2 linked regions of the Homo sapiens genome follow. The protein of the gene in region 2 purifies or fractionates together with the protein of the main gene of each other region. This does not show direct contact. Each region holds a gene or a part of one and is shown on either strand. Other genes may lie near its edges.

Region 1 (3,657 bases), on a different chromosome or scaffold from region 2:
ATTTCTTTCCAGTCTTCTTGCTCTCGGAGCCGCCCGTTTCTTGAACGGATGCTCTTCTTTGTACACGAATTTCATCCTGTTGGGAACCCGGCTGAACTAGGCTGGGCTGAAGGAACCTGGGGGAGCCGGGAGGTGGGTGGCAGTGATAGTGGCGACAAGTAGGCAGATTCAGCCAATGTAGAGCATTTTTTCGTGTGTTTATTGGCTATTTGTATATCTTCTTTGCTATGATGTCTTTTCAAATTCTTTGCTTTTTTTTTTTTAGTCGTAGGCGTTTTTTAATATATTTTGGATGCAGGCTCCCTTTGTGATACATGGTTTGAAAATATTCTCCCATTTGGGGGATTGTCTTCTCACTTGATGGCATTATTTGCAGCACAACAATTTTAAATTTTGTTGTAGTCCAGTTTTGATCTGTTCTTGTAGTGTTTTAATGGTATTGATATAATTTGTTTTCAAACTCTATTCTAACCCATTGAGATCTCATTACTAGAGAAAGGAAGGTTTTTTGTTTTTGTTTTTTTTTGTGTGTGTGAAGTATTCAATCATAAGATTCTTAGGACACACTTATACGGATTTGGCCAGAGTTTCTGCCCTAAAGAATTCTTCCTAATAGAAAGGTGTTTTGAAATTGTATGAGGAAAATACCTTTATGAGAGAGCATTCCTTGCTGCTCCTTTGCCTAAACCAATGGTTATCTACCGGGATGACTTTGACCCCTGGGGGAATATTTGGCAGTGTCTGGAGATATTTTTGATGGTCTCAATGGGGCAGGCGGTGCTACTGGCATCTAGTGGGTAGAGGCCGGGTATGCTGTTAGACAAACTGCAGTGTACAGGACAGCTTCCCACAACAAAGAATTATCTGGCCCCCAAAACCAATAATGCCAAAATTGAGAAACTCTGGCCTAAACAGGGAGATCCTGAAACTTAAGATATTAAAATATTTTTCTTCAATCCATGCCTTGATAATCACATAAAGATTGCTAATCAAAGGAGAATCTTTGCAGATGGAATCACTGTGGACAGAACAGTGACAGAAAAGAGAACACTTTGCTGAATTCAAAATGCTGCCAATTTGTATGTAAATGACATTTATGGTGATGGAAACCAGTTGGAGCAAAAGTAGATTATTCCCTACACCTCAGTCCCTGGGCCACCCTGAGATAGACACAAACACATACACTCACAGGCAGATAACCAAACCGGGTTGATTTAGACAGATGCTGGAATGGTGGTCTCCTGAGAGAATACAGCAATGAGATTTTAGGATTCAAATTTAACAACAGTGATTGACAGTCACTAGTGATTGACAATCATTGTTTTTTCCTATAATTTAGGGAACTAGCTTTATCCTCCTTGCAAGTTGCTTGTTGCTTAAGACATTTCTTAAGCAGCGTGGCATCCTTAAGAGTTTGGATTCTGGGTCCAGATTGCCTGGGCTTAGATCTTAGCTTCACCGTTTACTTGTGTGATGTTGTACAAGTTCCTTAACCCTCTTATGAATCAGTTTTTTCTTACGTAAAATGAGGATGCAGTAGTATCTACCTTATAGAAATGTGGGGATGAATTAATACATTTAGAGCACTTAAAACAGTGCATGACATACAGTGTTAAATAGGTGTTGGCTGTTAATATTATCACATATCTTATCTATATTCTTTCAGCTCATTGCTATGGACAGTGCTATCACCCTGTGGCAGTTCCTTCTTCAGCTCCTGCAGAAGCCTCAGAACAAGCACATGATCTGTTGGACCTCTAATGATGGGCAGTTTAAGCTTTTGCAGGCAGAAGAGGTGGCTCGTCTCTGGGGGATTCGCAAGAACAAGCCTAACATGAATTATGACAAACTCAGCCGAGCCCTCAGATACTATTATGTAAAGGTAGTACACATCCTGATCTTATACTATACAGAGAACCTCCAGACAAGAACGATTCCTTCTTGGCTGGGCACAGTGGCTCACGCCTGTAATCCCAGCACTTTGGGAGGCCAAGGAGGGTGGATCACCTGAGGTCAGGAGTTCAAGACCAGCCTAACCGATGTGGTGAAACCCTGTCTCTACCAAAAATACAAAAAAAACGTTAGCTGGGCGTGGTGGTGGGCACCTGTAATCCCAGCTACTCAGGAGGCTGAGGCAGGAGAATCGTTTGAACCCGGGAGGCGGAGGTTGTAGTGAGCCAAGATTGTGCCATTGCACTCCAGCCTGGGTGACAGTGAGACTCCGTCTCAAAAAAAAAAAAAAAAAGATTCCTTGTTTTCTGTTGAGGTTATAGATACCAATTTCCTAGTTTATTTTAATCCAGTGTATTTTGTAGCTTCAGCAGTTTGGAATTAGGATACAAGGTATAAATGTTCCGGCTGAATCTCTACCAAATCTTCTTCTTTTTTTTTTTTTTTTTTGAGACGGAGTCTTACTCTGTCGCCCAGGCTGGAGTGCAATGGTGCGATCTTGGCTTACTGCAACCTCTGCCTCCAGGGTTCAAGCTATTCTCCTGTCTCAGCCTCCCAAGTAGCTGGGATTACAGGTGGCCACCACCACGCCCAGCTAATTTTTTATTATTTATTTATTTGTTTATTTTTTTAGTAGAGGTGGGGTTTCACCATGTTGGCCAAGTTGGTCTTGAACTCCTGACTTGAGGTGATCCACCTGCCTTGGCCTCCCAAAGTGCTGGGATTATAGGCGTGAGCCATCACAGCCAGCTGCCCCAGATTTTATTTATTAACTTACTCCCATTACACATATTTTATTCCTAATTACAGTTGTCTTTAAAAGAAAAAATATGTACAGAATTGGAATATGACAAAGGCAATTTGAGATTCTTGAGGATAAGTAAATATTCTCATGTGTGTCATAATTTACTTTAAAAATTGTGAAGCCTGGAGTAGTGGCTCATGCCTGTAATGCCAGCACTTTGGGAGGCTGCAGCAGGAGGATCACTTGAGCCCAGAAATTTGAGACCAGACTGGGCAACACAGGGAGACCCCGTCTCTACAAAAAACAGTGTGGCGCGGTGGTGTACACCTGTAGTCCCAGTGCCCAGGAGGCTGAGGCAGGAGGATCACTTAAGCTCAAGTGGTTGAGGCTGCAGTGAGCCATGATCACACACCACTGCACTCCATGAGAACCCTGTCTTGTTGGGGAGAAAAGTCATATATGTACATATACACACACACATATATCTACATATATACGTTTTATATCTTAATTTTTAGTTTTAGTTTAACCCAGGGAACACAAATTAAAACCTTATACCTTAAGTAGTAGCTGTTTATACACAGAGTTGGTTTTTTAGTTAAAATTGCTGAGATCTTAATTTCTTTCACTTTTTTTTGTTTGTTTGTTTGAGACGGAGTCTTGCTCTGTTGCCCAGGCTGGAACACAGTGGCGTGATCTCAGCTCACTGCAACTTCTGCCTCCCAGGTTCAAGTGATTCACCTGCCTCAGCCTCCCGAGTAGCTGGGACTACAGACATGCACCACCACACCTGGCTAATTTTTGTATTTTTGGTAGAGATGGGGTTTCACCATCTCTACGGGAGGCTGGTCTTGAACTCCTGACCTCAGGCAGTCCACCTGCCTTGGCCTCCCAGAGTGCTGGGATTACAGGCGTGAGCCACTGTGCAGGGCTCTTTCACCATTAAGTGGTTGATCTTACCA
Region 2 (2,624 bases):
TTGTTTTTTTTTTTTTTTGTCAGTAAATACTTTATTCATTTCTCTGTTGATTTTTTTTCCTCATTACAAAACAGCACTGTATACAGCTGTGCATTTTCTGGTTACATGGAAGTGGAATTATTTGGTAAATGTGCATATTCAACATGAATAAAAATGAACAATTTGCTTTCCAGGGTAGTATTTTAAATTTATACTCCCATATTCCACCAGCAGTGCTTGAGAGTTATTGTTTATCAGCATTTCCTAATGTGAAATCGGAGTTTTTCTAAATGAGATTTTTGGCTATTTGGAGATTTTCCCACTTTCCTTGGAATGGTCTATTCAGATTCTCTACAGTTTTTATTTTATGAGATTTGATTTGTAAATATTCTTTATATATTTGAGTTTTAACTTTTTGTCAGTATGTGACAAATATATTCTGTCACCTTGTGGGTTTGTTTTTAACTGTTCGTGATATCTTTGGATGTGCAAAATTTTAATAATGTTGGATTTATATTTTTTATAGTTTTTGAATGCTGCCTTTTCATAAAGGAGTTATCTGACTTCCACTTTCCCCAGGAGCTGCAGGCATCAATTTGGCAAGTTTACTTAGCGCTGGTGTACTTGGTGACGGCCTTGGTGCCCTCGGACACGGCGTGCTTGGCCAACTCCCCGGGCAGCAGCAGGCGCACGGCCGTCTGGATCTCCCTGGAGGTGATGGTCGAGCGCTTGTTGTAATGCGGCAGGCGGGAAGCCTCACCTGCGATGCGTTCGAAGATGTCGTTGACGAAGGAGTTCATGATTCCCATGGCCTTAGAGGAGATGCCGGTGTCGGGGTGGACCTGCTTCAGCACCTTGTACACGTATACGGAGTAGCTCTCCTTGCGGCTGCGCTTGCGCTTCCTGCCGTCCTTCTTCTGCGCCTTAGTCACGGCTTTCTTCGAGCCCTTCTTGGGCGCGGGAGCGGACTTCGCTGGCTCCGGCATGTTGAAGGCGAACTACGAGCCTGAGACGAGCAGCAGATCGTGAAAACGGGAAGTAATGCAAGGCATTCAGTTTTATAAGGGAAGTGGTTTGGAAAATTTGCAGCCTGACAATGCGATTGAAAAGAAAATCCTGTTTTCTGAGGAGAAATTCAGACTGGCTAAAGAAATTTGCATAAGTAACAAGGAGCTGAATGTTAAGCCCTAAGACAGTGGAGAAAATGTCTCCAGCCATGTCACAGACTTTTGTGGCAGCCCATCCCATCATAGGCCTAGAGGCCTAGGAGGAAAAAGTGGTTTCATGGGCCAGGCCCAGGGTCCCTGTGCTTTGTGCAGCCTAGGGACTTGGTGCCCTGTGTCCCTGTCACTCCAACCATGGCTGAAAGGGGCCAACATAGTGCTCAGGTCCTGCTTCAGAAGGTGCAAGCCTCAAGCCTTGGGAGCTTCCATGTGGTATTGAGCCTGTCAGTGCACAGAAGTCAAAAATTGGGTTTTGGGAACCTCTGCCAAGAGTTTAGAGGATGTATGGAAATGCCTGGTTGTCTAGGCAGAAGTTTACTGCAGGGATGGGGCTCTCATGGAGAACCTCTGCTAGGGCAGTGCAGAAAGGAAATGTGGGGTTGGAGCCCCCACACAGAGTCCCTACTGGGGCACCACCTAGGGGAGCTGTGAGAAGAGGGCCACCGTCCTCCAGACCCCAGAATGGTAGATCCGCTGACAGCTTGCACCGTGCACCTGGAAAAGCCGAAGACCCTCAATGCCAGCCCATGAAAGCAGCCAGGAGAGGGGCTATACCTTGCAAAGCCACAGGGGTGGAGCTACCCAAGGCCATGGGAGCCCACCTCTTACATCAGCGTGACCTGGATGTGAGACATGGAATCAAAGGAGATTGTTTTGGAACTTTAAGATTTGACTGCCCTGCTGGATTTTGGACTCGCATGGGGCCTGTAGCCCCTCTGTTTTGGCCAATTTCTCCCATTCAGAATGGCTATATTTACCCAATTCCTGTATCCCCATTGTATCTAGGAAGTAACTACCTTACTTTTGATTTTATAGGCTCATAGGCAGAAGGGACTTGCCTTGTCTCAGATGAGAGTTTGGATTGTGACTTTTGAGTTAATGCTGAATGAGTTAAGACTTTAGGGGACTGTTGGGAAGGTATTATTGGTTTTGAAATGTGAAGACATGAGATTTGGGAGGGGCCAGGGGCTGAATGATATGGTTTGGCTCTGTGTCCCCACTCAAATCTCATCTTGTAGTTCCCACAGTTCCCATGTGTTCTGGGAGGGACCTGGTGGGAGATAATTGAATCATGGGGGTGAATCTTTCCTGTGCTGTTCTCGTGATAGTGAATAAGTCTTATGAGATCTGATGGTTTTAAAAATGGAAACTTCCATGCACAAGCTCTCTCTTTGCCTGCCGCCATCCATGTAAGATGTGACTTGTTCCTCCTTACCTTCCACCATGATTGTGAGGCCTCCCTAGCCATGTGAAACTGTAAGTCCATTAAACCTCTTTTTCTTCCCAGTCTTAGATATGTCTTTATCAGCAACGTGAAAATGGACTAATACAGTTGGTTTATAAAACTAGTTTTAAAAAATTCAATGGGATGTTTTTCTTGGCCCATTTAATTTTTTCTTCTTTACTGCAGAGAAGTAATTG

The links. Proteins that work in one complex are often made in the same cells at the same time.
Region 1: the proteins of H2BC12L (region 2) and ELK4 purify together in Homo sapiens (co-immunoprecipitation; one large-scale study listed by IntAct). This does not show direct contact.

Annotation. Positions count from the first base shown.
Region 1 is NC_000001.11:205,621,901-205,625,557, reverse strand, and holds part of ELK4 (ETS domain-containing protein Elk-4), read left to right. Parts: exon of another isoform or gene 1-173; intron 174-1,666; 5' UTR 1,667-1,675; coding exon 1,676-1,882; intron 1,883-3,657. UniProt on the Homo sapiens protein: Involved in both transcriptional activation and repression. Interaction with SIRT7 leads to recruitment and stabilization of SIRT7 at promoters, followed by deacetylation of histone H3 at 'Lys-18' (H3K18Ac) and subsequent transcription repression.
Region 2 is NC_000021.9:43,563,580-43,566,203, reverse strand, and holds H2BC12L (histone H2B type F-S), read right to left. Parts: upstream 1,023-2,624; 5' UTR 966-1,022; coding exon 585-965; 3' UTR 556-584; downstream 1-555. UniProt on the Homo sapiens protein: Core component of nucleosome. Nucleosomes wrap and compact DNA into chromatin, limiting DNA accessibility to the cellular machineries which require DNA as a template.